Linked DNA regions of Homo sapiens. The protein of the gene in region 1 interacts with the protein of each later gene in a biochemical or structural test. Each region holds a gene or a part of one and is shown in the gene's direction. Other genes may lie near its edges.

The links.
Region 2: the proteins of USP8 (region 1) and STAM2 form a complex in vitro, tested with the Homo sapiens proteins (3 studies listed by BioGRID, with this or other methods).
Region 3: the proteins of USP8 (region 1) and YWHAE form a complex in vitro, tested with the Homo sapiens proteins (2 studies listed by BioGRID).
Region 4: the proteins of USP8 (region 1) and SEC31A form a complex in vitro, tested with the Homo sapiens proteins (one study listed by BioGRID).

What each region holds. Positions count from the first base shown.
Region 1 is NC_000015.10:50,510,886-50,515,670, forward strand, and holds the end of USP8 (ubiquitin carboxyl-terminal hydrolase 8), read left to right. Parts: 3' UTR 1-3,536; downstream 3,537-4,785. UniProt on the Homo sapiens protein: Hydrolase that can remove conjugated ubiquitin from proteins and therefore plays an important regulatory role at the level of protein turnover by preventing degradation. Converts both 'Lys-48' an 'Lys-63'-linked ubiquitin chains.
Region 2 is NC_000002.12:152,172,125-152,180,497, reverse strand, and holds the start of STAM2 (signal transducing adapter molecule 2), read left to right. Parts: upstream 1-4,734; 5' UTR 4,735-4,855; coding exon 4,856-4,895; exon of another isoform or gene 4,896-4,965; intron 4,966-8,373.
Region 3 is NC_000017.11:1,397,129-1,405,536, reverse strand, and holds the start of YWHAE (14-3-3 protein epsilon), read left to right. Parts: upstream 1-5,314; 5' UTR 5,315-5,426; coding exon 5,427-5,490; intron 5,491-8,408. UniProt on the Homo sapiens protein: Adapter protein implicated in the regulation of a large spectrum of both general and specialized signaling pathways. Binds to a large number of partners, usually by recognition of a phosphoserine or phosphothreonine motif.
Region 4 is NC_000004.12:82,887,441-82,896,225, reverse strand, and holds the start of SEC31A (protein transport protein Sec31A), read left to right. Parts: upstream 1-5,072; 5' UTR 5,073-5,074; coding exon of another isoform or gene 5,075-5,138; intron 5,139-5,160; exon of another isoform or gene 5,161-5,531; intron 5,532-8,785. UniProt on the Homo sapiens protein: Component of the coat protein complex II (COPII) which promotes the formation of transport vesicles from the endoplasmic reticulum (ER).

The sequences.
Region 1 (4,785 bases):
CCTGCCTCAGCCTCCTGAGTAGCTGGGACTACAGGCGCCCGCCACCATGCCCGGCTAATTTTTTTTGTATTTTTAGTAGAGACGGGGTTTCACCGTGTTAGCCAGGATGGTCTCGATCTCCTGACCTCGTGATCCGCCTGCCTTGGCCTCCCAAAGTGCTGGGATTACAGGCGTCAGCCACCGTGCCCGGCCGATGTACACCAATGTTCTCTGTACAATTCTTTCAGATTTTCTGAATGTTTGCAAAGTTTTATTTTAAAAACTGGAGAGAGAGCACTTGAAAAGATGCTCAACATCATTAGTCATTAGGAAAATGCAACTCAAAACCATGACATACCAGTTCATACCTACTTTGTATGGGATAGAATAAAAAATGAGAGGCAGTAACAAGTTCGGTTGAGGATGTGGGGAAACTGGAACCTTAGTTCCAGTTGCTGGTGGGAACGTAAAATGCTGCTGCCACTTTGGAAAACAATTTGGCAGTTCCTCAAAAAATTAACCAGAGTTACCATATGACCCAGAAATTTCACACTTAGGTATATACCCAACAGAAATGAAAACATGTTTACAGAAAATCCTGTACATAAATGTTCATAGCAGCATTACTGATGACAGCCAAAAGTGGAAACAAGCCAAATGTCCATCACTGGATGGATTAAGGAAATGTGGTATATCCTATACAATGGAATATTATTTGGCAATAAAAAGGAATGAAGTACAGATACATGCTATGACATGAATGAAACTTGAAAACATTATGCTGAATAAAAGAAAATAAAAACAGAAGGTCATATATTCTATGATTCTGTTTATTAAAATACCCAGAATAGGCCAGGCACTGTGGCTCACGCCTGTAATCCCAGCACCTGGGGGAGCCGAGGCAGGTGGATCACTTGACGTCTGGAGTTTGAGACCAGCCTGGGCAATATAGCAAAACCCCATCTCAACCAAAATACACAAAAATTATTGGGGCATGGTGGTGCACACCTGTGGTCCCAGCTACTCGAGGGAGGGAGGAGGGAAGATCACTTGAGCCAGGGAGGTTGAGGCTGCAGTGAGCTGAGATTGCACCATTGCACTCCAGCCTGAGCAAGAGTGAGATATTGTCTCAAAAAATAAAATAAATAAAATTTTAAAAATACGCAGAATAGGCACATCTATAGAAATATATAAAGTAGAGGCCAGGAGAAGTGGTTCATGCCTGTAATCCGAGCACTTTGGGAGGCCAAGGTGGGTGCGCCACTTGAGGTCAGGAGTTCAAGACCAGCCTGGTCAACATGGTGAAACCCCACCTCTACTAAAAATACAAAAATACACCTGTAGTCCCAGCTACTCGGGAGGCTGAGTTACGAGAATCCCTTGAACCTGGGAGGCGGAAGTTGCAGTGAGCTGAAATCATGCCACTGCACTCCAGCCTGGGCAACAGAGCAAGACTCTGTTAAAAAAAAAAAAAATAGCGAGAGATCGAGAGAGAGTGCACGTGAGAAGACTAGTAGTTGCTATGGACTGGGGGAGAAGGAACGGGTTACAGGGTTTCTTTTGGGGATAACGAAAATGTTCTAAAACTGGACTGTGGTGATAACTGCACAACTCTGTGAATGTACTAAAAACTACTGAACTGGCCAGGCACAGTGGCTCACACCTGTAATCCCAGCACTTTGGGAGGCCCTGAGATGGGCAGATCACTTGAGGTCAGGAGTTCCAGACCAGTCTGGCCAACATGGTGAAACCACATCTCTACTAAAAATATTTTTAAAAATTAGCCAGGCATGGTGGTGCACCTGTAATCCCAGCTACTTGGGAGGCTGGGGCATGAGAATCATTTGAAACCAGGGGGTGGAGGTTGCAGTGAGCCGAGATCACACCACCGCACTCCAGCCTGGGCGACAGAGCCAGACTCTGTCTCAAAAACAAACAAAACAAAAACAACAAAAAACACAACTGAACACATTTAAGGTGAATTCTGTGGTATGTGAACTATCTCTAAGAACTTCTTTTTATTTAAGTTGGGAAACAAAAAGATCATGTACAACAAACCAAAAACAAAAAAGTTATTTCTAACCCATGTAACATATAACAAGGATCTAGAACATGTAAATGACTCTTTCCAATCAATAAGAAGAAAAATAACCCAGTTTGTAAAAAATGTGCAAAAGACAAATATTTCATACAATAGGAAAAACTAAAATGAGATAATTTTGTATCCATTAGATGGCAAAAATTAAGAAGTCTGATGATCCTGGTAGGGGTATGTATTGGTATAATCACTTGTAGAAAGTTAAATATGCACATACTTTATGATCTAAGTGACCTCACTCCTAAGTATATACATGAGAGAAACTCTTATGCACATATATATGCAGGAATGTCTGCATAATGTTGTTCATGCCAGCAAAAATTTGGAAACAATGAAATATCAATAGGAAAATGGATAATTTATGATATATTCACACAATATACATCATAGGCTAGTGAAATTATAACCACATGCAACAATATGGATATATCTTTAAAATATTTAATGAAAAAGTATGCTTGGCGCGGTAGCTCACACCTGTAATCCCAGCACTTTGGGAGGATGAGGGAGGTGGATCACCTGAGGTCATGAGTTCGAGACAAGAGCGAAACTGTCTAAAAAAAAAAAAAAAAAAAAGAGTGAAGAATCAAGCCACAGAAGGTAATTTAAAAATGTACACTCAAGATTTAAAAAGAACTACAATTCCATAAGAAAAAGGCAGGCCACAGAATAGGAAAAAGAATAAAAGACTTGTTTAGGCATTTCACAAAAGAAAGTATACAAATTTAAGTAGTTATTTAAACCACAATGCCATTCTACTATATGGGCAACCAGAAGGGCCAAAACAAAACGAACAAAAGACTACCAAGTGTTAACAAGGATTTAAGGCAACTGAAACTTCCAGTCATTGCTGGTGGGGGTATGAATTGGTACAGTCGCTTTGGAAAGCTACTGAGCAGTATGTACTAAAGCCAGACATATGCGTATTTCTGAACCAGGAGTTTCACTCCTAGGTATGTACTCAAAAGAACTGTGTACACTATGTTCACCAAAAAACAAGAATGTTTATAGCAACCCTCTTTGCATTAGTCAAAAGCTAGTAATTACCCAAAAGTTCCTGAATGGTAGAATGAATTACTAAATTGTAGTATTTTCATACAATGGAATACTATACAGCAATGAGAATGAATAAATTACAATATAAACAACAATATGGATGAACATTACATAATTTTGAATGAAAGGAGCCAGACACAAAAAAAGGATATACTGTACAATTCCATTTATACGAAGCATAAAATCAGGCAAAAATCTATAAATCTGTCCTGCCAGAAGTCAGTGGTTTTCCAGACTCGAAGGCAGGTACAAGCACAGTTAGGGTGCTGGTAACATTCTGTTTAAACTCTGTTCTGCTGGTTACATGGGTATGTTCACTTGAAAATCCATCAAGTTTTATCCTCATGGTTTGTGTACTTTTCTGTATATATGTTTCACTTCAATAAAGTTTATTTTTGGTCAAGGGCAGTGTCTCATACCTGTATTCCCAGCACTTTGAGAGGCCGAGGCAGCCCGACTGCTTAAGCCCAGGAGTTCCACAGCAGCCTGAGGAACATGGAGAAACCCTTCTCTACAATTTTTTTTCTTTTTGAGATGGGAGTCTCGCTGTGTCACCAGGCTGGAGTGCAGCGGCGCGATCTCGGCTCACTGCAACCTCCGCCTCCTGGGTTCAAGTGATTCTTCCTCAGCCTCCCAAGTAGCTGGGATTACAGGCGCATGCCACCACACCCAGCTAATTTTTTTTATTTTTAGTAGAGATGGGGTTTCACCATGTTGGCCAGGATGGTCTCCATCTCCTGACTTCGTGATCTGCTTGCCTCAGCCTCCCAAAGTGCTGGGATTACAGGCGTGAGCCACCACCCCTGGCCTACAAATTTTTTTAAAAAATTAGCTGGGCATGATGGCACTTGCCTGTCGTCCCAACCACTCAGGAGGCTGAGATGCGAGAATCACTTGAGCTCAGGTGGTGGAGGTTGCAATGAGCCGAGATTGTGCACCACTACTTCAGCCTGGGAAAAAGAGAGAGACACAGTCTAAAAAAAAAAAAAAAAAAAAGTATTTTTTAAAAAACATGAAGAAATAGAAATCTTGACTAGACCTATAATAGCTAAAACAGCCTGAGTCAGTATTTTAAAATCTACCCACCAAGAAAAACGAAATTCCAAGACCAGATGGTTTTCCTGTTCAATTCTACCAGATTTTCAAGAAACAGATTTTTATTTTATACAATCTGTGCCAGAGAAAAGAGTGACAAACTCACTTTATGAGGCTTGTGTTTTGTTGTTGTTGTTGTTGTTTTTGAGACGGAGTCTTGCTCTGTCGCCCAGGCTGGAGTGCAGTGGCGCGATCTCGGCTCACTGCAACCTCTGCCTCCCGGGTTCACGCCATTCTCCTGCCTCAGCCTCCCAAGTAGCTGAGATTATGGGCATGTGCCACCACGCCCGGCTAATTTTTGTATTTTTGGTAGAGACGGGGTTTCACTATGTTGGCCAGGCTGGTCTCGAACTCCTGATCTCAGATGATCTGCCTGCCTCAGCCTCCCAGAGTGCTGGGATTACAGGTGTGAGCCACCACACCCAGACTATGAGGCTTATTCTAATAAGACTGACCCCCAAAACAGAAAAGGACAGTTTAAGAAAGAAAATTATAGGTTACTTTCTCAATTGTGATAATAGATGTAAAATATATATGTGTATATATATATATATATA
Region 2 (8,373 bases), on another chromosome or scaffold:
TTCTATTCAAGCAGGAATTTAGCAAGCTACACAAGAGGTTGATTTAGAGGCTTGGCATTTTGCTGTTAGAATACACCCCCCAGATCAACAGGGAAATATTATAGCTACATTTGAGCCTTTTCCTTTTAAATTACTAAAAAAATTTAAACAAGCTATTAATACTAAAAAAGGATATAGAAATAATCAGCGAGTCAGGCTGCCATATAGGGGATTCCAGAATGGCTCAGGCCATTCCCTCACCCCTGTACAATGTCTGTCCCCTGCCACAGCTGGTAGTGCCACGGTAGACTTATGCTGCACAAAAGCTGTGAGCCTTCTGCCTGGGGAATCCCTGCAAAAGGTTCCAACAGGAGTCTGTGGATCTTTGCCAATGGGGACAATAGGATTACTTTTAGGAAGGTCTAATTTAAGTTTAAAAGGGGTACAAATACATACAGGAGTCACTGATTCAGATTACAATGGGGAAATTCAAATTGTTATATTTACTTCTGTTCCCTGGAAAGCAGAGCCAGGAGAGTGCATAGCACAGCTCCTGATCGTGCCGTATGTGGGAATGGGAAAAAGTGAAATTAAACGAACAGGAGGATTTGGAAGCACAAATAAACAAGGCAAAGCAGCTTATTGGGTAAATCAAATTACTGATAAATGTCCTACCTGTGAAATAACTATTCAGGGAAAGAAATTTAAAGGTTTGGTAGATACAGAAGCGGACATTTCAATCATTTCTCTACAGCAGTGGCCGTCTGTGTGGCCAATTCAACCCGCTCAATTTAACATAGTTGGAGTTGGTAAAGCCCCTGAAGTATATCAAAGTAGTTATATTTTGCATTGTGAAGGGCCTGATGGACAACCTGGGACTATTCAACCAATTATAACTTCTGCACCTATAAATTTATGGGGAAGAGATTTGTTACAACAATGGGGAGCACAAGTTCTAATTCCAGAACAATTATATAGCCCTCGAAGTCAACATACAATGCATGAAATGGGGTATGTCCCTGGTATGGGACTAGAAAAAAAAAATTTGCAAGGTTTGCAAGAACTGCTTCAAGCAGAAAGACAAAATTCCTGCCAAAGATTAGGATATCATTTTTGATGGCCATTGTTAAGCCTCCAGAACCTATACCTTTAAAATGGTTAACAGATAAGCCAATTTGGATAGAACAATGGCCGCTAAGTAAAGAGAAACTGGAGGCTTTAGAGAAATTAGTTACTACACAATTAGAAAATGGGCACATAGCTCTAACATTTTCCCCTTGGAATTCTCCAGTTTTTGTAATTAAGAAAAAATCAGGTAAATGGAGAATGTTAACTGACTTAAGGGCCATCAATTCAGTTATACAACCTAAGGGAGCATTACAGCCAGGATTGCCTTCTCCTGCTATAATTCCAAAAAATTGGCCTCTAATAGTCATAGATTTAAAAGACTATTTCTTTACTATCCCTTTAGCTGAGCAAGACTGTGAACAGTTTGCATTTACAATTCCTGCAGTAAACAACCTGCAGCCTGCTAAGTGTTTTCCTTGTTTCACAGATGGGTCTAGTAATGGCAAAGCTTCTTATTCTGGATCAAAAGGTAAAGTTTTCCAGACGCCCTATACTTCAGCTTAAAAAGCGGAGCTTGTAGCTGTAATTGAGGTATGGACTGCTTTTAATATGCCTATTAATGTCATTTCTGCTGCTTCATACGTGGTTCATTCCACACAATTAATTAAAAATGCTGTTACTATTTCATACAGATAAACAACTAATGACAAAAACAAAAAAGGGGGAGAAATAGGGATTATGGGACAGCCCATACACAATTGAATCTAGCATTATTAACTTTAAATGTTTTGAGCCTGCCCAAAGAAGGCCAGATGTTATCAGCAGCTGAACAGCATCTACAGAAACCAGATGCAAAGACAGAAGCAGAACAACTGATTTGGTGGAGAGATCCGGTAACAAAAAGTTGGGAAATAGGTAAAATAATAACTTGGGGTAGAGGTTATGCTGTATTTCTCCAGGCCAAAATCAACAGCCGATTTGGATACCATCAAGACACCTGAAACCTTATCATTAGCCAGATGCCAAGGAAGAGATTCTGGGAGGATCCCAAGGACCCCCCCCCCCGGTTGCAGCCATGTTGAGACTGACACTGAGAAGGACCCCAACTGTCGTGAGCTATACCCATCAAACACAGCCACCCACCTGGGGACAGACCAAGAAGCTGTCACAGATGGCAGAAGAAAACCTGAGGAAAGCGGGACAACCAATCACAACGAGTAATTTAATGGTAGCTACCATAGCGGTGATCACCATTGCCATAAGTATTCCTTCAACAAGGGCTGCCGAGACCAGCTCGGTCGGGGAGAGCCTAACCTAGCGGCGCTAGAGGAATTAAAGACACACACATAGAAATATAGAGGTGTGAAGTGGGAAATCAGGGGTCTCACAGCCTTCAGAGCTGAGAGCCCCGAAGAGAGATTTACCCACGTATTTATTAACAGCAAGCCAGTCATTAGCATTGTTTCTACAGATATTAAATTAACTAAAAGTATCCCTTAAGGGAAACGAAGGGATGCGCCGAATTAAAGGAATAGGTTGGGCTAGTTAACTGCAGCAGGAGCATGTCCTTAAGGCACAGATCACTCATGCTATTGTTTGTGGCATAAGAAGGCCTTTAAGTGGTTTTCCACCCTGGAAGGGCCAGGGGTTCCTTGCCCTCATTCCAGTAAACCCACAACCTTCCAGCGTGGGCATTATGGCCATCACGAACATGTCACAGTGCTGCAGAGATTTTGTCTATGGCCAGTTTTGGCCATTCTCCTGAGGCAGGAGAATGGTGTGAACCCAGGAGGCGGAGCTTGCAGTGAGCCCAAATCGCGCCACTGCACTCCAGTCTGGGTAACAGAGTGAGACTCCATCTCAAAAAAAATTTTTTTTTACTATTCTGCTACCCAATATCCTTAAATAATTATTGAGTGCCTTAATCAAAATAAAAAATTCCCAGCTTGCCCTTTAAAATTCTTGTCAATCTGTTTCCTCTTATACCTAGTCAGCCTTGTTTTCCATTCCAACACTAAGTCTTAGACAAAAAGTCTTTATCTGTCCAAAAAATCTCTAAGTCTTTTTTTTTTTTCTTTTTTCGAGACAGAGTCTTGCTCTGTTGCCCAGGCTGGAGTGCAGTTGCCTGATCTTGGCTCACTGTAACCTCTGCCTCCTGGGCTCAAGTGATTCTCGTGCCTCAGCCTCCCAAGAAGTTGGCATTACAGGCTTGCGCCACCATGCCTGGCTAATTTTTGTATTTTTAGTAGAGACGGTTTTTCGCCATGTTAGCCAGTCTGGTCTTGAACTCCTGGCCTCAAGCAGTCTGCCCGCCTTGGCCTCCCAAAGTGCTGGGATTACATGCGTGAGCCACCATGCCCGGCCTCCCAATTTATCTTGAACATCCCTAGGTTCAACGTTCTATGAAAAACAGCCCCTTCTGCACGATTCCTTCTCATTTGTGCCCCGAACTTTATAAAATGCAACCACCTTTCTGAATGTGTATGAGCTCTCTATAGCATCAGGTCTTTATACTAGAGTTTGTAAAATGGTTTTGATTAATCTATTATTTAAAATGTTGGAGTAATTCTCAACATTTAAACATCATTGAAAAATTGCAAACTCTAGTAGGACCCACATTTCAATAAATGGCTGCAATTTACCAGTAGTTGACATCTTTAGATACGCACTGTTCAGTTAGAAAGTTACAGCTTCATTCGAAAAGCATTGAGCGTCTATTACTTGGGACACTGTTTTAGACGCTGGGGATATAGTAGTGACCAAAACTTATCAGGGAGTTTATAATCTAATGAGGAGGAGAGACAGGCAACATAATCATTACTACAGTTTTCTAAGAGGAACAGAGAATATGTGGGTGGGAAGGGTGCTTGGGCTTTTGCATTCATTTAAATACCTGGCTGGATGCTGTTGGAATTTGAGTTTATGACTCGTACTACCATCCGAATCGTCATACACCATCATGTACGTTATGCACTGCCCCTATAAAACTCTCAACAAGTCTAAGGCAGGGAGTGTGCCTCCTTCGCCTTTGGATTCCGGGGGCCCAGCAGTGTTTTTATGGAGGGGACACGATGGAAAGCGAAAAGTTAGGCGTAGTTACTTCGACCACCGCTGTCCCGGGTGGTTATTCTGACGGGGTTTGGACTGGGCGCCTGGGAGGGTGCAACACAATAATTGTTGAAGAGCAGTCAGGTCTTTCGCAGAATCTCAAAGCCACCTCCGCGCCGGCAGCTCCGTTTCTAGGGAAACAGGACTGTAACGCGTACGCGTCGTGGGTCCTCGTTCTCTAGCTACGAGTCCTGCCGCTCTGAAACAAACTAAATTCGTGACAAGAACTTGGCCCTCAGAGCCCGTCGTCCAACGCGAAAAACCACGGGTAACCGCGCCCCCTGCCGCGCCGCCGCTGGCACTGCAGCTTCCGGGGTCGTCCAGTTCCAGGCGGGACTACTTCCGGCTCCGAAGGTCCCCGGCTTCGTGGCTAGCCGGGGTCCTAGCGCTGGAAAGGTGGCCGTAGCGGCCGCCTGACCCCTACAAAAGTCTGGGACAGGGGCAGCGACAAAGGCCTTGGGAGGACGCCCATGGTCGGAGGGATCTCGCCCCGGGAGAAAAGTTGGGACAGGAGCGCGGGATCGAAGGGTGGACTCCGAGCCGGCCTGTCAGGCAAGAGCCGGGCAGGTGCGGTGGCGGAAGTGCAGGGACGGAGGCCGAAGCGGAGCGGTCTAGGGAGCCGCGGCCGCGGGTCACCCGGCGGGTAGCAGTTGCTGAGTGTCAGCTAGACAGCAGCGACTAGGGCTCGGGCGCCGGCGAGATGCCTTTGTTCACCGCCAACCCCTTCGAGCAAGACGTGGGTGAGTGCTGTGCCCGGTCCTGGACTGCTGTGTGCCTGGCCCTGGACTGCTGTTTGTCCGGCTAGAAAGTGGGCGGTAGCGACTCCGGGGACTAGGAAGCAAAGCGAAGGGAGGGGAGGGGCGGTGCCGCCCGCTCCTTCGACGTTGGGATTTTTCTGGGGCAACCTCGGCGCGTCGCTAGCGGTCTGGGGAGTGCTTCCTGCCGCCTGAGTTTGGGGACCCTCAAAGGGCCGTTCTCCTTGCCAAGCGTAGGATTTGGGAAGAGCCTAGGGCTCGCTGGAGACTGGACTGATTAAGTAGTTGTGGAGTTGGTGATTAAAAACTTCCTGCTCGTTCGACAGCTGGTTACCTCCGTCTTTGCCCCATCGTTTTCTGAAGATGATGCAGCAGTGGAGACCCTGCTGTCTAGAGAAGCCCAACACTAGACACTTGACACCTAGACAACCGCATTGAATAGGAAGAACTTACTTCCCCATTATTTATATTACTCATGCATTCAATCCCTGATAGGGTAGCTTTAAGATTTATTACAATTGTAAAGGTGTTGCTCTTCATCCCCGGATTGCAAAGATTGCGCGGGTGCTAGGAGATGTTCGGTTTTAGAGTATGAAAAGGAAATCTCCAGTCTCAAAACACTCCAGAACAACAAGTATTTTACATGTTGCAGTCATAAAGCGCTGGTCTCTCAGTGACTATAGAATGAGAAAAACATGGATAAGATATATACGAAATTATTTAGGAAATTTGAGTAACACTAAAACAAACTGAGAAATATATGTATGTATTCTCGAAAGTCTGGGTCTCACTATGTTGCCCAGGTGCGACTAGAATTCCTCCCACCTCAGCCTCCACCTCCGTTTCCCCTTCCCGAGTAGCTGGGACTACAGGTTTGTTTTTTGTTTGTTTTTGTAGCAGTAGTTAACAGAACCCTAGGTAAATTTTTAGAACTTGGAAATGGGGTTGGGGCGGGGAGACTCAGAAGAATACTGCACATCTCAGCAGTAATTCCCCTGTTTCATAGTTAACATTTGGTTATTAGGAGACTGTAGAAAGTGCCCTATTCTGATACGTTGTGTAATCCCCTAAGCCATTTTAAAAAACATGTTTGAGTCAAATAATATATGTAAATAGTTCAAATATGTATGTTCCTTACTTCATTAAACTTTTTTTTTGGTGGATGAATACAGGTGACTGGCGTAAATCTGGGAAACATCACTCTTAAGGCTCACTGTTTCCTTTTGGAACGCCTCATTGCAGTATTCTTTTGTTTGAATCATACAACCTTTGTGCAACCTGTACTTTTAAAAAATTGCTATTATGAACACTTTGATTCTGTTCTAATGAAATAAAACAGAAGGCGCAAAATAGAATTAGACAAATGATTTTAAAACTTAAAAACCGTGAATTCTTTTCTTCAATATAAATTTTTCTTGAAAGTTCATTGTTTTCTGATGGAAAAATTCTCTGGTACAAGTAGGCAGAGTTGCTCTGTCTGTTCTGTTCTAAACCTTTCCCTGCCTGGCTCCCGAGGCCCCAGCATTGGTTTAGTGGATCACAGTTTAGTCCTACAGTTGTAAAGGAGGCACTGCTGTTGAGATTAAAAAAACAAACAAACAAAAAAACTGTGTCTAGATTATTTTATGGCCAGTGCCATAAGCCAGAGCTTCAAGTAGTTACATATTAGCTTAAGCATGACTGAATTCAGAACCCCAAAGGCATTTTAAGGGTGAAAGAATGAATTTGAGGCCCTCCTGTAACTTCTGGACAAGAGAATGGAATTAGAAAAAGTAGAATGAAATACTAAAGAGCTCAAATTGGACTTGCACGTATATCATAGAAGAAAAATTATATATTACGTTTTTAATATCTTAAAACTTTTCATTTCAAATCGTTAATACAAAGCAAGGGTCAGGCGCAGCGGCTCACGCCTGTAATCCCAGCACTTTGGGAGGCCGAGGCGGGTAAATCACTGGAGGTCGGGAGTTTGAGACCAGCCTGACCAACATGGTGAAACCCCGTTTCTACCAAAATACAAAAAATTAGCCAGGCATGGTGGCGCGTGCCTGTAGTCCCTGCTACTGGGGAGGCTGAGGCAGGAGAATCACTTGAACCCGGGAGGCGGAGGTTGCAGTGAGCCAATATCTCGCCACTGCCCTCCAGCCTGGCGACAGAGCAAGACTCCGTCTCGAAAAAAAATATATATATATATGTATACATATATATATATATGTATATATATGTGTGTATATACGCCCACAGACACACACGCATACACAAAGCAAGTCATTATTTGACTTGAGATGTCTACAGGAAATGTTACTTTACATTGTCATTGTCTTTTTCACTTGTTCTCTTTGATTCAGTCAGATTTTTGTTACCCTTTTTTTTTTTTGGTCATTCCTTTGTTCACTCTTCATTCAGCAGGCATACATTGAATAATTACTGTGTGTCAAGCATTGTGTTAATCTATGGACACAAAATGAGTAAATAGACTGTGAGTTCCTGCCTTCAAGGAACTCTCAATCTAATGGAGGAAACAGAGAGACATAAGACCTGTAATTTAGTACGATAAGTATAGTGCTACAAATATACAAGAAGCTTTAATCCTCTTTTATTTAAAATAGTCATAGTCCCTGAAGAAAAGACAAGGACCTTCAGATAGGAGCTTTCTCTGTAAAGGTGTTGACACTATCCTCTCCTTCCCACCTTTTCTTTTTTCTTTTTCTTTTTTTTTTTTTTTGAGACGAATCTGTCTCTCAGGCTGGAATGAAGTGGCCTGATCTTGGCTTACTGCAACCCCGCCTCCCGGGTTCAAGTGATTTTCCTGCCTCAGCCTCCCGAGTAGCTAGGACTACAGGTGCGCACCACCACACCTGGCTAATTTTTTGTATTTTTAATAGAGATGGAGGTTTCACCATGTTGGCCAGGCTGGTCTTGAACTCCTGCCCTCAAGTGATCTGCCCGCCTCGGCCTCCCAAAGTGTTGAGATTACAGGCGTGAGCCACTGTGCCCAGCCTCCTCCCCCCCTTCTCTGATAGCACTTTCCCAACAGGAAGTAACCACCTTTTGCTAATGTATGATATGGTCATTTTATGATTAAAGGCCTTTAAAGATTAATCTCTTTTGGTAGGTGAAGAGTCTTGCAGGAGGGTGAGCAGTCTTTCTGACAGTCATATGAGGAAGGAATCCTTTTCTCAGGGGCTGAGAAAAGGATGGGTCAAGATGTCTTAGGAAGGCACTCATGAATTGATGATGATATGTGACTTGTCAAATGGAAGCAGGCCAAAGGCTAGGAAGTAGGGAACTCTGGCAAATTCCTGTCTTTTCTTGGCATCAGAACCTACAAGCCCTGAAGGATATACTAGATTTGGTAGTGTTAGAACTCTTTAAACATTTTATCTAGATTCATTTTTTTGTTTTGTTTAATAAGATTTCTTTGATGTGTTCTGAGGGGAAAAAAGAAAATATCCTTAGGTCC
Region 3 (8,408 bases), on another chromosome or scaffold:
ACTTCTGCGCAGCACCAGGATGTTTTATATCTGTTTATAATCCCGAATGCTACATCAAAATTGTTTCTGTCTATTTTTGGTGCCCTATCAACCATGTCTGCCCGTTAGTTCCATGTATTGAGAGAACGGGCAGTGCAGTCACACCAGCAATCTACGTGTAGGGTTTCTGCCGTCTCAGCAGTTACGTAGGAAGAGGCACTTTTGGAGAGACTTCGGCGGGTCTGGGGAGACACTGTACAGAAGCTTCTTTGTGAAAGAGACGGCCGATAGCTTCTTTCCCCAGCACAGACAGCTGCATAGCCACGGCAGCCCCTGTAATCAACCCGGCAGCAGAGCTGTCTTTGTAGGTAGGTTTGTGAATGTGTGGACCAAATCCTTAATTTGGCCACCCCTATTGGCCACTCATTGCTCTCAAATTACCTGTCTGTCTTCACTGCTCCTCTCAGGAGACCCCTATGCTTACCAGTTCCACTTTCTCGACTTCCCTGAGCTTCAACCAAATGCAATCTGGCTTCCAACACCATTTCGAAACTCCTTTTGAAGGTCACTAATGACCTAATCGCTATATCCAATGGCTTTCCCTCAGTGCTAATCTGACTTATGTCTCTGCAGAATTTAATACGACTGACACCTCCTTTTATTCTTTTTTTTTTTTTTGATATGGAGTCTCACTCTGTCACCCAGGCTGAGGTGCAGTGGCGCAATCTCAGCTCACCACAACTTCCGCCTCCCAGGTTCAAGTGATTCTCCGGCCTCAGCCTCCTCAGTAGCTGGGATTACAGCCGCGTGCCACCATGCCCAGCTACTTTTTGTATTTTTGGTAGACACAGGGTTTCACCATTTTGGTCAGGCTGGTCTCAAACTCCTGACCTCATTATCTGCCCGCCTTGGCCTCCCAAAGTGCTGGGATTACAGGCGTGAGCCACTGTGCCCGGCCAACAGCTTCCCTTCTATTTGGAATGCGTGTCCCCTTTTACAACTCCTTCGTGGTCATTTTTACCTGGGTGATCCTTGGGTACCTGCGGATCCCTGATCCTCTGAACCAACATGTGCTAAAAGAACTTTGTCTTTCTCTGCATTCCATCAGCAAGTGTTCCTAGCATTCCCATTTTTTGTTAATATTCTCAGGGTGGAAAGATGGAAAGTCAATTTTTATTATAAGATCTTCAATCTGGGCCAGGTGCGGTGGCTCACGCTGGTAATCCCAGCACTTTGGGAGGCTGAGGTGGGAGGATCACCTGAGGTCGGAGTTCAAGACCAGCCTGGCTAATACGGTGAAACCCTGTCTCTACTAAAAATACAAAAATTAGCTGGGCATGGTGGGGCACACCTGTAATCCCAGCTACTTGGGGGGCTGAGACAGGAGAATCGCTCGAACCTGGGAGACAGAAGTTGTGGTGAGCCGAGATTGTGACATTGCACTCCAGCCTGGGCGACAGAGCGAGACTGTCTCAAAATTAAAAAAAAAAAAAAAGCCCTCTCCCTCTCCCTCTCCCTCTCCCCACAGTCTCCCTCTCCCTCTCTTTCCACGGTCTCCCTCTGATGCCGAGCCGAAGCTGGACTGTACTGCTGCCATCTCGGCTCACTGCAACCTCCCTGCCTGATTCTCCTGCCTCAGCCTGCCGAGTGCCTGCGATTGCAGGCGCGCGCTGCCATGCCTGACTGGTTTTCGTATTTTTTTGGTGGAGACGGGGTTTCGCTGTGTTGGCCGGGCTGGTCTCCAGCTCCTAACCGCGAGTGATCTGCCAGCCTCGGCCTCCCGAGGTGCCGGGATTGCAGACGGAGTCTGGTTCACTCAGTGCTCAGTGGTGCCCAGGCTGGAGTGCAGTGGCGTGATCTCGGCTCGCTACAACCTCCACCTCCCAGCCGCCTGCCTTGGCCCCTCAAAGTGCCGAGATTGCAGCCTCTGCCCGGCTGCCACCCTGTCTGGGAAGTGAGGAGCGTCTCTGCCTGGCCGCCCATCGTCTGGGATGTGAGGAGCCCCTCTGCCTGGCTGCCCAGTCTGGAAAATGAGGAGCGTCTCTGCCCGGCCGCCATCCCATCTAGGAAGTGAGGAGCGTCTCTGCCCGGCCGCCCATCGTCTGGGAGGTGAGGAGCGTCTCTGCCCGGCCGCCCCGTCTGAGAAGTGAGGAGCCCCTCCACCCGGCAGCCGCCCCGTCAGAGAAGTGAGGAGCCCCTCCGCCCGGCAGCCACCCCATCTGGGAAGTGAGGAGCGTCTCCGCCCGGCAGCCACCCCGTCCGGGAGGGAGGTGGGGGGGTCAGCCCCCCGCCCGGCCAGCCGCCCCGTCCGGGAGGTGAGGGGCGCATCTGCCCGGCCGCCCCTACTGGGAAGTGAGGAGCCCCTCTGCCCGGCCGCCACCCCGTCTGGGAGGTGTGCCCAGCAGCTCATTGAGAACGGGCCATGATGACAATGGCGGTTTTGTGGAATAGAAAGGGGGGAAAGGTGGGGAAAAGATTGAGAGGTTGGATGCTTGCCGTGTCTGTGTAGAAAGAGGTAGACATGGGAGACTTCTCATTTTGTTCTGTACTAAGAAAACTTCTTCTGCCTTGGGATCCTGTTGATCTGTGACCTTACCCCCAACCCTGTGCTCTCTGAAACATGTGCTGTGTCCACTCAGGGTTAAATGGATTAAGGGCGGTGCAAGATGTGCTTTGTTAAACAGATGCTTGAAGGCAGCATGCTCGTTAAGAGTCATCACCACTCCCTAATCTCAAGTACCCAGGGACACAAACACTGCGGAAGGCCTCAGGGTCCTCTGCCTAGGAAAACCAGAGACCCTTGTTCACATGTTTATCTGCTGACCTTCCCTCCACTATTGTCCTATGACCCTGCCAAATCCCCCTCTGCGAGAAACACCCAAGAATGATCAATTTAAAAAAAAAAACAAAAAAAACACAAAAAAAACATTATATTATCGACTATACCTTAAATTATAATAAAATGTTATATATGTAATGGTAAAAAAAAAAAAAAGAGCTGCAATCTGATCAGCTGCTTGTGGCTTCCCTCTATAGTGCTATTCCTATTTATCCTTTCCTTTCTATTTTCATTGCTCCCACGTATTACGTTTGGTTATCCTCCTCTTTAATCATTGCTATGGAATATTTGTTAATATTTCTGAAATATAACTATGATGACATCATCCTCCACGCAAAATCATACAGCTCCCTTGGCCACAAAATAGGATGCAAGATTGGGTGCGTTGGTGCAAGCCTGTAGTTTCCCAACTACTTGGGAGGCCAAGGTGGGATTGCTTGAACTCAGTTTAAGGCCAGTCTGTGCAACGTGGCAAGATCCCTCCCTCTCCCCACTTTATTTTTTGAGACAGGGTCTCGCTCTGTTACCCAGGCTGGAGTCCACTGGTGCAATCACAGTTCACTGCAGCCTCAACCTCCTGGACTCAGGAGATCCTCCTGCTTCAGCCTCTGAAACTGCTAAGATATGGCTCAGGCCTGTCATCCCAGCACTTTGGGAGGCCGAGGTGGGCAGATCACGAGGTCAGGAGATCGAGGCCACCCTGGCTAACATGGTGAAACCCCGTCTCTATTAAAAATACAAAAAATTGGCCGGGTGTGGTGGCATGTGCCCGTAGTCTCAGCTACTTGGGAGGCTGAAGCAGGAGAATTGCTTCAACCCGGGAGGTGGAGGTTGCAGTGAGCCGAGATCACGACACTGCACTCCAGCCTGGGCAACAGAGCGAGATGCCGACTCAAATAAAAAAAAAAAAAAACGTTTTTATAGACATGGAGTCTCGCTATGTTGCCCAGGCTGGGCTCAAGTCATCCTTCCGCATGGGCCTCCCAAGCGCCAGAAGCTGAAGCAATGTTCACTGAGTTATTCCTGCCTCCACAATCTTTATTTGATCTTGGTCCAACTCTTCTGTACCATGTACTCCACACCACCCTCATCTAACAAATTCCCTGCTCCTATTCATAGTGGGCCTAGGGAGGGAAAAAGGTTAAACAGGAGAAGACAAAGATCAGTGTGAGGGGAAAGTTGAGGCGTGAAAACTGGAGCTCCCCTGTCCCTGACAACTGTAACAGGGCCCAGTTCGTTTTTTTTCTTTTTCTTTGTTTTGAGACAGAGTTGTGCTCTTGTTGCCCAGGCTGGAGTGCAATGGTGTGCTCTCGGTTCACTGCACCCTCCCACTCCCGGGTTCAAGCGATTCTCCTGCCTCAGCCTCTGGAGTAGCTGGGATTACAGGCATGCACCACCACGCCCAGCTAATTTTTGTATATATATATAATTTTTCTTTTGAAACACAGTCTCACACTGTCGCCTGGGCTGGAGTGCAATGGGAGGATCTCGGCTCACTGTAACCTCCGCCTCCCGGGTTCAAGAGATTCTCCTGCCTCAGCCTCCTGAGTAGCTGGGATGACAGGCATGCACCACCATGCCAAGCTAATTTTTTGTATTTTTAGTAGAGACGGGGTTTCACTATATTGGCCAGGCTGGTCTCGAACTCCTGACCTTGTGATCCTCCCGCCTTGGCCTCCCAAAGTGCTGGGATGACAGGCATGAGCCGCCGCGCCCGGCCAGGGCCCGGTTCGTTACCCTGAGTCTAAAAGTGTCTGAAAAAGGCCCATGACCAGGCTTGGCCGAGAAAACTAGGACGTGGGCTGGGCGCGGTGGCTCACCCCTGGAATCCCAGCGCTTTGGGAGGCCGAGGGGGGGCGGATCATCTGAGGTCGGGAGTTCGAGACCAGCCTGGCCAACATGGTGAAACCCCATCTCTATTAAAAATACAAAAGCTGGGGGTGGTGGCGGGGGCCTGAAATCCCAGCTACTCGAGAGGCTGAGGCAGCAGAATCACTTGAACCCGGGAAGGCGGACGTTGTGGTAACCCGAGATCGCACCACTGCACTCCAGCCTGGGGAACAAGAGGGAAACTCCGTCTCAAAAAGAAAAAAGAAAAAAGAAAAAAGAAAAGAAAACCAGGGCGCGGTAGTGACAGCCTCAGATTTCGGGAAAGAAGACCTGCCATGACAGAAACCGTTACAGCCTCCGTCGTTCTTTTCCGCAGGTCGGGCCTCGGGCCCCGGTCTGACCCAGGTCTCTCGCTGGCTTTTTTCAGGAGCAGTCCCGGCCGGCCCCGCCTCAGCCCTTCTCGTTCCCCGGGGGCCGCTCCCTTTCGGCAGTCGCAGTTCCCGCCTCTGGGCTCCGGCGCCCGCTGAGCCGACAGAGGAGAGGCGTCTCGTGCGCTCGTTCCAGCCGCTTCGGGCGCCGAGTTCCAGGACCCGCCCCCCGCGCCAGTTGCCAGGGAGCGGTTGCCATAGAGCTGAGCAGTTGTCCGCGTGCGCAGGCGGAAGTCCCGGATTGAGGCGCCGCCATTTTTGCTGCCCGGACGCGGAGCGAGAGGCTGAGAGAGTCGGAGACACTATCCGCTTCCATCCGTCGCGCAGACCCTGCCGGAGCCGCTGCCGCTATGGATGATCGAGAGGATCTGGTGTACCAGGCGAAGCTGGCCGAGCAGGCTGAGCGATACGACGGTGAGTTGGGGGGGCAACGGGGGGCTGGAATTCTCGGACCCTCTGCCGCCGCCCACAGAGGCCGGGAACAGGAGACAAAATGGCGGCATCGTCTGCGAGCCTGGCCCGGGGGCTTGGGTTCGGGAAGCAGGAAATGGCCTGGGAGCTCCCGGGGCGATGGGAGGCTCTATGCCCTGGAATGTGACCCCTTCGCCGTCCTTAACTGCAAACAACTCGCGGGCCGGGAGGCCGGGGCGACGGGGTGGAGGAGTTGGTTGTAAAATGGCGGCTGGGGGGAGGGCGAGTCCCGGGGCGGGGGAGGGGGAGGAGATGGCGGGTGCTGTCTCCGAACGAGCCACCCTCATGGGAGCTTCTGGGACGGCCTTGGGATGTGGAGAACAATTGGGTGGGGTGACGGGGGAAGCAGCACCCGCCACATGGGAGAGAGCGAAGACCGGGAGCTGTAGCGCGGGCGCCTTTCAGGGAAATATGGCGGGTGGGGGCGGTGGCTTTTCCCCGGAGGCCCCGTGTGGGGCGGCGGCCGTGGAGTCTCACAAAGGAGGACCTTTGAGAGCGATGGGCTTCCTCAGGCCTGAGGTGGGGGACAGTCGTGGATGATGGTGGGGGGAGAGGGGTGAGTGGGAATCACTGCAGTTCGTCTTCGGGCGGTGGCAGGCTCCCATGCTGCGATCGGGTTTCTTTCCCGTAGGCCGGCACCTCGTAGTGAGGGGTTTCGGGGCTTTTCCTCCTCGTCGTCTTCTGGGGAGGCCCAGAAAATCCTCACTCCCTCCCTTTCCTCAGACTTAAAACAGGAGATCTCGAAGTTCCTGTAACCTTTCTCTGGCTCCATCACCCGTGGGTTCTGATGGATAGAACCAGGAGGCCACGACTCTGAGAGTTCGAGCCTTTGTAGAGCCCGAGCCTCCGTCCCCCCGTTTGTAAAAACGATGACTTTACAGTTTGTGCGCACCGTGATGACAAATGGGAAGACCTGTTGAAATAAAGTTATTTCCAATAGTGTTCAGTAACTGTATTTTGGTTGACTCTGCAGGCTCGGAATGCTGGTCTGTACTTCGTGGGGGATCTTAACCTATTCCAGGCGCTCGGCTGAGGCTGGGTTTTTTGAGTTATGAAGGTTGAAGATCCTGTTGCTTTCTTTTTTTCCGTTTTAAATAAATGGGTTTATGTAGAAATATTAGTAGGTCCTCTTTGTTCGTTGTTCTTTTGCCCCTAATGGGTTCTCCAGTCCTTTTTCAGAACTTCATCGAATGTCCATTGTGTCTGTCCAGTCATTGTCAGGAAGTTTATTCTTAATCCTCTCTCCCAGTCCACCTTTTGGACCACCTTTTGAAATACCCACACATTTATAATTGTGCGATACTGTAGTATTAAACGAAAGGTCATGTCTGTGGGTCCTGTGGTTTTAATGCTTTTGCGTGGTAGGGTGGGGTGAGACATGGTTGGAATCAAGTATCTTTGATTCTTAGATTTTTTTCCTAATTAAAATACCTATATTTCAAAATGTTAGGGCCCTTGCTTTCCTCGAAATGCGGATTTAGTCATGTGAATAACCTCAGGGTTAGTCCCCCTTATCATCAGAAATAAGATTCAGGGATTTGAAAATAAGACAAGGCCTCTAGAACTCATATTTAGGAAATATAGTGAACTAAATTTCGTCTTGTAAATTCTTAAATTGCTATTTGTATTCAACAAGGTTCCTGTTGGGGGGGGGGATAAGATGGGGAAGTACAGCTCAAGGTCTGCTTTGTCTTTATTTCAGTGTTTAAAAATCAAAGAGATATGAATGTGCTTGTATTGGAAGTCTCCTCCTCCGCCCCCTCATCTCCAGATGTTCCCCTCTTAATCTGTTAGTGTTCTTGGGAGGAAACAAATTGTACTTGAATGCTTTCTATTTTGTGGGTATTGGGGCTTTTTAAGTAAACTTGCTGTGATAACTAGAAAGGATGTGAGGAAAGGTCTTTTTCTTTTTGAAAGCTCCTTTAAAAAACTGATTTGAAAGCTTGTGATTGTAGTTTCCAAATAAAGTACAGGTTAGTGATAATTATATTTTTGATGTGAGTGGTGAGGATTTCTGACCAGAGCCCTTATTGGTTATTGAACATGGGACTCTGATACAGCCACATTATTACAGTTGTTAATGTTAGGTGTCCCCTTCAGGATCTAAAGGGGTAAGGAAATAGGATCTACAAGGTGAGGAGCTATTGCTGTGACTTGGGGCATAAGGTAGGGACTCAGTGGAAAGGAGAGGAGGAGGAGGAGACAGAAACCAGGAATTTCTACCTGTGTCCTCTACCTGTGTCCATTCCTTTATTGAGTGCGGTATTTTTTTGTTTCTGGTGGCAAAGTTTTCCCGGAGTTCTGGTCACCAAACAGAACTTAGCAGGTGTCGGGGGTGGAAGAAGGTAAGACAGTGTATTGGCAGGATTTCTTTGTTGGGTACTTGTACCCAAATGCTGGGTTTCCAGCTGCCCTTTTATCTCTCTGTTACTGCAGCAGGCTTATTTTATTTTGCTTGCTGTGTTGAATTAGTGCCTAAACTTCTTTGTATCCTCATTTAATTCTATCCTGGGGCGTTGGAATCAATTTATATGGATTATTTAACAGTACGGGAGGAAGAGCTAACCTGTGTTCAGGAAAATGACAATTTTGGGTCACAGGAAATATTTAAGTTTGGGGCTGGGAGTTGAAGATTAAATCTAGCATCTCATCACTTTAACAAGCCAGTAGTCTATTCGAATCGTTTTTACCTCCTTTGAAACCATATTAAGCAAGTCCATTATTTCTTAGCATTTCTCAAACAGCTCTTACTGTCCCGTATATGAAATAGTACAAGAAAGTGGGGAAGAAAGGCCGGGCGGGGTGGCTCACGCCTGTAATCCCAGCACCTTGGGAGGTCGAGGCGGGTGGATCACCTGAGG
Region 4 (8,785 bases), on another chromosome or scaffold:
AGTTGGTTCTGTTAAACAATATTTATTTCTCATAATAACCCTATGAAAGCAGATACAGACTTCTGGCTTTTTAGGATTGGTATTTCACTTGTTGAACACCTACCCTTGTGTCAGATGTATAGCAGGTTAACAAAGTCAATACAGTGATACACTTGACATAATCTTTGTTCTGAGTTTTTTTCCCAATTATAGTAAAATTGGAGGTCTTAACTGTTCTACATTAGATAAATATATGCATTTGTTTTAAAGAGCTAAGCAATGAGAATCTTACAACTAGAGCTGAAGTTCAAGAAATAAATGTCCAATGATTAAATTTTTTCCACTGCTGTTCACATCATGATTTGTTGTGATTAATGTATGTGGATGAGGACATAATAGAAAAAGAAAATGATGAGACTTGTATATATTGTGTTTCTGCACAATGAGTTCCTTTGAATGTTTTTCGTTTTAGGAATAAAATTGAAGGGTGTTTTTCTTAGAGAACATCATTTGTCATATTTATTTGATCAAGAAGTTGAAGATTTATATAATAAGGTATGGGACTTACACATTTATTTTGATAAAAGAACACAGAAAAGGTCAGGTATGAGCAGAAAATTGACATTTATTTCAGCCTAATGTGGATACTGTACTCTGAATTAAAAATTTCTTTTCCTTACTCTTCCAGCTTTTAAAGATAAGTATTATTTCAAAATAGTATTTTTTTAATTAATAGATTCAATTCAGGAAAGGCATTGGAGGGGGTGGAGCTTTTAACTTTGACAGTCTCACTCTGTTGCCCAGGCTGGAGTGCAGCGGCGCAATCTCTGCTCACTGCAATCTCTGCCTCCTGGGTTCAAATAGTTATTGTGGCCCAGCTTCCCAAGTGGCTGGGATTAGAGGCGCATGCCACCACACCCAGCTAATTTTTTTTATTAAGTAGAGACCATGTTTTGCCATGTTGGCCAGACTGGTCTCAAACTTCCAGCCACCAACCTCAGCCTCCCAAAGTGCTGGGATTATAGTCATAAGCCACCACACCTGGCTGTTGGTTATCTTTTCTTAGAAATAATGATATAATCTTTTCAGCACCTGATATTCTTAAAGATCCAGGGTTTACAAATGACTGTTAGATATGCCAAGGATGACTAGCCTATAACTTAAGGATCTGTTCAGGAACAGTAGAAAAGAAGGTGATAGGAAACTGGGAATCTTAAATCTAATACTAGTTCTGTCATGAATTAGGCTTGTTATTGTAGTTGTTTCTCAAATTTAAGAAAATATGAGGGGTCTTGAAAAAGTGCATGGAAAATGCATATCATGAAAAAACTATGCATGGATTTCAAAATTTTTGGACCAAAATAAACTCCTACTAACTTGTTATAACATGTCTGAACAGGATCTAGTTTGAAGCACTAAGAAGAATAAGACATCAGTTTGAAAAGAGGCTCTATCAGAACAACACGAATTCTGCTAAAATTGAAGCAAGAACAAACATCAAATATATGTTGACACTTGGGTGGAAGAATGGTGAACTAATTGATGCTTTATGAAAAGTTGATAGGGACAGTGCTCCAAAGAAATCAGTTTACAAATGGATAACTCGTTTTAAGAAGGCATAAGGTAATGTTGAAGAAGAAGCCCACAGTGGCAGATCATCCACATCAGTTTGTGAGAAAAAAGTTAGTTCATGGCGTAATTGAAGAAAACCAACAATTAACAGCAGAAACAACAGCCAACACCATAGACATCTCAGTTGGTTCACCTTACACAATTTTGACTGGAAAAGTTCAGCAAACTTTATACCTGATAGGTACCAAAACCATTGCACCCAGATCAGCTACAGACAAGAATAGAGCTTTCAATGGAAATTTTAAATAAGTGGGATCAGGATCTTGAAGCCTTTCATTGAAAAATTGTAACAGGAGATGAAACATGGCTTTACCAGCGCAATCCTGAAGACAAAACACAAAGCAGTGGTTACCAAGATAAGTAGTTCAGTTAAAGCACAAGAGGACTGGTTGAGAGCAAAGGTCATGGCAACAGCTTTTGAATGCTCAAGGCATTTTGCTTGTTGACTTTCTGTAGGGCCAAAGAATGGTAACGTGCTTATCATGGGAGTGTTTTGAGAAACTTAGCCAAAGCTTCAGCAGAAAAATCCCCGAGAAAGACCAGAGAGTTCTTCACCACAACAATGTTCCTGCTCATCCCTCTCATCAAACAAGGCCATTTTGCAAGAGTTTTGATGGGAAATCACTAGGCATCCACCCTACAGTCCTGGTTTGGCACCTTCTGACTTTTTGTTTCCTAATCTTAAAAAAATTTTTCAGGGCAGTACATTTTTCTCAAGTTAATGTATAAAGAAACTGCATTGATGTAGATAAATTCCCAGAACTCTCAGTTCTTTAGGGATGGACTAAATAGCTGGTATCATCACTTACAAAAGTGTCTTGAATGCTATAGAGCTAATGTTCAAAAATATAGTTTATATTTTTTATCTTTTAACCATTTTTCCACAAACTTTTTGAAGTCTCCTTGAATATGTACCATTTATAAAGGGGAAAAATTCTGTGACTACTCATGTTGACTTAATGCTGACTTAATTTTCTGTTTTGTAAATATATACAAACAAGTTGATACAAATTTTGTTTATAGCCCTTAAACAAATTTGTGAAATAAATGCATTCAGAAACAAACTAAAACAATGAAATGGATGCTACTGTTTTACTGAGGTGTAAGCATAGTACTGGCTGCTATGGAAAAAGTTACATAAACATTCATGTATCTTGTGATGATTGTTTTGTCTACAACTTCACTCTTTGCAGACATCAAGACTGTTGAAATGAGGGGAAGGGATCTGAATTCCCAAAAGAATGTCAAATGGGCATGGAGGCTCATGCCTATAATCCTTGCACTTTGGGTGGCTAAAGCAGAAGGATCCCTGGAGGCCAGGAGTTCCAGACCAGTATGGGCAACAAAATGAGTCCCTGTGTCTACAGAAAATAAAATAATTAACCAGGCATGGTGTTGTGTGCCTGTAGTCCTAGCTACTTGGGAGGCTGAGGTGGGAGGATCACTTGCGCCCTGGATGTTGAAGCTGCAGCGCGCTGTGATCATTGCCACCACACTCCAGCCTGGGCAACACAGCAAAAACCTGTCTCTAAAAAAACCTAGAATATCTTTGTGCTATGCAAATCCTAATTTGAAAAATTTGTCATTAAATTCTCTCCAAACATTCTTCTAGTGAGCAATTCAGTTTTTATTTGATTCAGGATTAGGCTTGGATAGTAGTTAACTAAATTGGATTTAGTTTTGTGAACTAAAGAGTTTTTCTTTTTTTAGATACAGGCAGTCTTTGCACAGTTCCAATATGCATAAATACCAGTGACCACAGTTAAATAAAACCAGTCCAACAATGTGGTTAATAATTCCATTACCACAGTACTGAGAAAACTTGCATAAATTTTGCTGCTAGCTCTTTAGTCCACAAATCATTGTGCCCCCCCCCCCAAAAAAAAGATGTGCATCATGATCAGTCGCCAGTTACATTACTTTGCTTTCAAAGTTTGTTGATTTGTTACTGATCATCTGTTTAGTTCATGCACAGATAGCAGAGCACAAAGTGCATAGTACTGTTGCCTCCTTGACCCCAGAGATTAAACTTGTGACCATTTATAAAAATGGATAATTAAAAGAGGTAATTGGTCAACAAAGGACAGAGCAGCAAAGAAAAGTGATAATGCTGGAAGTGAAATTGGATGTGATTAGATTTGAAAGTGGTGACAGCAAAGCAAAGATAGGTTGAGACCCAGACCTGCATGAAGCTGTAATACAAGCCTATTGAAAAAGTCTGATAAATGTAAAAAGGTAAAGTTGCTTCAACGTCTTTCAGTTTTAATTGCACTAGGAACAGAAAGCTGCTTGCGGTTGAAATGGAGCATTTACTTGTTTGAATTGAAGACTAATCAAAAACAAATCCCAATCAGTTTGACTAGCATTCAGGCCAAAGTGATAACCTTAGTTACTGCGTTGAAAGAAAATGGTAATTAGAAGACTGAAAGAGAATATATTACTACCAGTAAAAGTTGGGTTCATTATTTCAGAAGTTGGCGTGAATTGATGTTAAGCTGTCTTATGAAGCTGCAAGCTTCAGATGGAATGTTACAGAAGATGTAGCTGACTGTGGGAATGTTAACACTGCTGCTGTTCAAGGGGCAGGATCCTTCTGCTTTAGCTACCCAAAGTGCAAGAGTTGGCTTTGAATGCTAGATGTAATGAGAAAAGAACTTGTCTAGAAGTTAGGAGATCTGGGTTGAATCCAATTTCTGGTAATTTAGCAAGTGATTTTCCTTTGGCTTCACCTTGCTGTAAAATAATTCCTCCCTAAACTAAAAGTACACTTAGGCAACGCATCTAATTAGATTTGAGGTTGTGGAGAAACAGTGGCAGAAGGTGAGTGCTACCGGGTCTCAATACCATGGGATAGTAACAAGTATGAAACGGTACTAATTGGAATTAATATAACACCCCATCTATACCTCTTTGTCCACAATAGCCTTTGGGAATGCCCAGATTGTTTCACTTTGTATAAGTTCTCAAAACGCCAGAATGTGCAATCAAGTGGGTAATTTTAAGAACTCAGTCACAAATTACAATAAAGCCCTTGCAGCCCGATTTTCCACCTGGTTTGGCGCGGGCAGTGTCGCCAGGGGCTGCCGACGCCTCACAGGACTAGTGCTACGTGGCGTTCCTGCGGGCCACGGCGGTTATTCGGCCAGACGGGGACACCCTCTGCACTAGTCCTTTACCCACTAGTCCTGGCTACCCCATCCACATTCTGCGCGCCGCCCCTCAGAAAAGGGTTTCTACGATCGCCGGGGCGCGATGACCGCAGAGCGCCACCAACCAGCGGAGCCGTACCCCGCCTCCCAGGCTACCGCCGGTCCCGGAAGTGCCGTGGCGGGCTGTGCGTCGGGTGGGCGGGGAAAGATGTCGCTCCCGGAAGTGTTGGGCGCAGGGCGTGGCTGCGGCTGCGGCTGCCACGTTGGAACGGAACGTGGAGGTGGCCCTGGCCGGGGAGGAGGGGCGGCGGCGAATGCTGGGAGAGTCCGACGAGCGCTGCACTAACGCAGGATCCGGCTGCCGAAGGTCCTCGCCAGGTGCGTCCGCCCGTTGCTTTTTGTCCTCTTCGCCGGTCCTTAAGCTTTGAGGTAGAGCCCAGGCCAAAACTGGGACCGCAGCCTGGGTCTCCGCTGCCCCGCACCAGCCTGAGGCCCGGTCTCTGGTGACGGCGCGCCCCTAGTCTTGGTTTCGGGCCCGGCGGAACAACGCCTGGCATCTGGACTCCAGTGATCGCGCCCGTCCGCATTCGCCGACGTCTCCACTGCTGAGCAAAAGCCACCCGAGGCTGGCGACAGTGTCTTGCCGGGGAGTAGTAGCCGGGCTGGTAACTGGAGTTTGAGATTAGGAGACTTTCAGACCCTTGTGCACAAAGAGGTGCGGTCCCCGAGGGTGAGGAGAGGAAAAAAAATCTCAGGATTACTTTGGCTTTGGTTAGGATTTTTTTTTGTACTTGAACTATTGCCAGATTTAAAGGTTCATAGGTTTGAACTGACGTCTACTGTCATTTAACTAGGATTATTTTAAGGACGGTGGTAGCCAGGCGCAGCCTGTACTTTGAGGGCAGTCTCATTAAGTGTTACATGTTTTTGCTAATAAGTTGTTAAATTACGGGGCTGTTGTAAAATAAACCAAAATATTGCCTGGACTTGTGGGCATTATAAATTTTTTCTTGCGCTTAAGGAATTAATTTTACGTAGGGCTATTTGAAGTTGCAGTGATCTGATAGTCTGTGACAAATCCTTTCTCCTAACTTATTTTTTCTAACTATAGAAAACTGAAATTTGGTTGTCTTTGTGGGCAGTTATAACTGTATTTAATCGATAAGGGTGTGTTCTTGTTACAGCGTCCTGCGTTTTCTGTACCTCCGTTTATTCAAGAGTTGGCAAAAGCTTACTCTCCTTTTTTTTTTTTTTTTTTTTTTTTGAGACGGAGTCTCGCTCTGTCACCCAGGCTGGAGTGCAGTGGCGCGATCTCAGCTCACTGCAACCTCCGTCTCAGCCTCCTGAGTAGCTGGGATTACAGGCGCCCACCACCACACCTGTCTAATTTTTGTATTTTTAGTAGAGACGGGGTTTCACGCTGTTGGTCAGGCTGGTCTGGCACTCCTGACCTCAAGTGATCCGCCCGAGTTGGCCTCCCGAAGTGCTGGGGTTACAGGCATAAGCCACCACGCCCAGCCTACTCTCCTTTTTTAGTGGTTCTTCTGTGCTCCTTGTTTCTCACTATCCCTTAATTAACAGCTCAGGGAGAGGTTTGTAGACTCTTAAGAACTTTTGGATAACTCGTAGTGTTTTTGTAGTTTTGTAGTGATTTTATCTTAAATACGTCCGCGGTTATTTGTGAAATTTGAAATTTGAGGTGGATTTATAATGATATTGCTTAATTTTATATAAGCAAATTCTTTATTGAAACCAATAACATGGGAATAGAAATAAATTTGTAAACTGTGAAGAGCAATGATTCAAAATTTTGGGGGGATTTCACTGTCTTACGGGAATCTAATGAAAGCATTGGAAGAATGCACATATACACACATGTAGGATTTTCTTTTTTTTTCTTTTACTTTTTTTTTTTTTTTGAGACAGGGTCCCTCTTTGTTGCCCAGATTGGAGTGCAGTGGTGCAGTCATAGCTCACTATAACCTTGAACTTTTGGGCTCAAGAGATCCTCCCGCCTCAGCCTCAGAAGTAGCTAGGAATATGCACGTGGCGCACGCCCAACTAATCTTATTTTTTATAGAGATGGGGGTCTCACTGCGTTCCCCAGGCTGGACTCAAGCTCCTGCTTTCAAGTGACATGTAGGATTTTCTATATACATAATATTATGAAGTTTACAAGTTAAAAACTCCTGTAAGGGGATATTACTAGATTGATTTACATTGATTACATTGTTGTTAGGAATGTCATTAGGTTAATTTCAGCTCAAAAAGTTTTATTATACTGAAGATTAGTATGACACCAATTAGTTCAGTAACCAGTGCACAGTTGCTTTCTCCTTTGATTTGGTTTGGGTTGAGTGAAATGAACCTAGAACATTGAAAATACTAAATAAATCCTCTAAACAATTGTTTCTATCCATATTGAGATATTTTGCCTGCAGAAAATGGATTTTTACTGAAAGCAGTGCCAACTAGGGATTGTATACCTGGTTTGGGAATCCAAGTTCCAATTCTATTACCTCTTTAACTTTTTACTTGCTTTCTGAGTTATGGATCAGCTCTGTATATAGCATTGCAAGGTTGGTATTTTTCAAAGAACAGTGCTGGTGGGTTTTAGTATTGCTTCACAAAATTTACACTTTGAAAATGAGCAGAAATAAAAAAGTTTCCACCTAATTGAATGCAATTATTGAGAGAAAGTTGCATGAAAAATAAAGAGTTCTAGTCTAGAATATAAATTTTCCTCAAGAAATTTTTTTTTTTTTTTATTTTTTTCTGAGGCAGAGCCTCGCTCTGTCACCCAGGCTGGAGTACATTGGCGCGATCTCGGCTCACTGCAAACTCCGTCACCTGGGTTCAAGCGATTCTCCTCCCTCAGTCTCCCGAGTAGCGGGGACTACTGGCCGCGCCATCACGCGCAGCTAATTTTTGTATTTTTAGTAGAGACAGGGTTTCACCAGGTTGGCCAGGATGATCTGGATGTCTTGACCTCGTGATCCGCCCGCCTCGGCCTTCCAAAGTGCTGGGATTACAGGTGTGAGCCACTGCGCCTGGCCGTGTCTGTGTGTATATATATATATGTTTTTTGTGTGTTTTTTTTTTTTTTTTTTTTTTTGAGACGGAGTCTCGCTCTGTCTCCCAGGCTTACTGCAACCTCTGCCTCCCGGGTTCAAGCGATTCTTCTGCCTCGGCCTCCTGAGTAGCTGGGATTACAGGTACACACCACCACGCCCGGCTAGTTTTTGTATTTTTTAGTGGAGACGGGGTTTCGCCATGTTGGCCAGGCTGGTCCCGAACTTCCGGCCTCAAGTGATCTGCCCACCTCGGCCTCCCAAAGTGCTGGGATTACAGGCATGAGCCACTGCGCCTGGCTAATAGATGTTTTTTTTGTTGTTGTTTGTTTGTTTGTTTGTTTGTTTTGAGACAGAGTCTTGCTCTGTCACCCAGGCTGGAGTGCAGTCGCATGATCTCAGCTTACTGCAAGCTCTGCCTCCCGGGTTCACGCCATTCTCCTGCCTCAGCCTCCCGAGTAGCTGGGACTACAGGCGCCCGCCACTGCGCCCGGCTAATTTTTTGTATTTTTAGTAGAGACGGGGTTTCACCGTGGTCTCGATCTCCTGACCTCGTGATCCGCCCGCCTCGACCTCCCAAAGTGCTGGGATTACAGGCGTGAGCCACCGCGCCCGGCCTAATAGATGTATTTTTGAAGTTTCGTGGTGGTAGACGTTTTAAGTAGTGATGTTTGTAATAACTGTCATTTATGAGCATTTGTTTATATATGCCAGGCACTGTTCTAACCACTCTGAGTAATACCACTTATTTCTCACAACAACCCTGTAGTATAGATACTGTTCTCCTTATTTTAATGAGAGAGGAGCCAGGACATACATGGATAAAGCGACATGATTAAAGTCAGAGGTGGACATAGTGAAGCTGGAATTTAAACTGAGGGTGTCTGCCCTAGACCCCATGCTCTTAATTGCCGTGCTATAGATACTGTCTTGGAGATGGCATGTATGAACAAG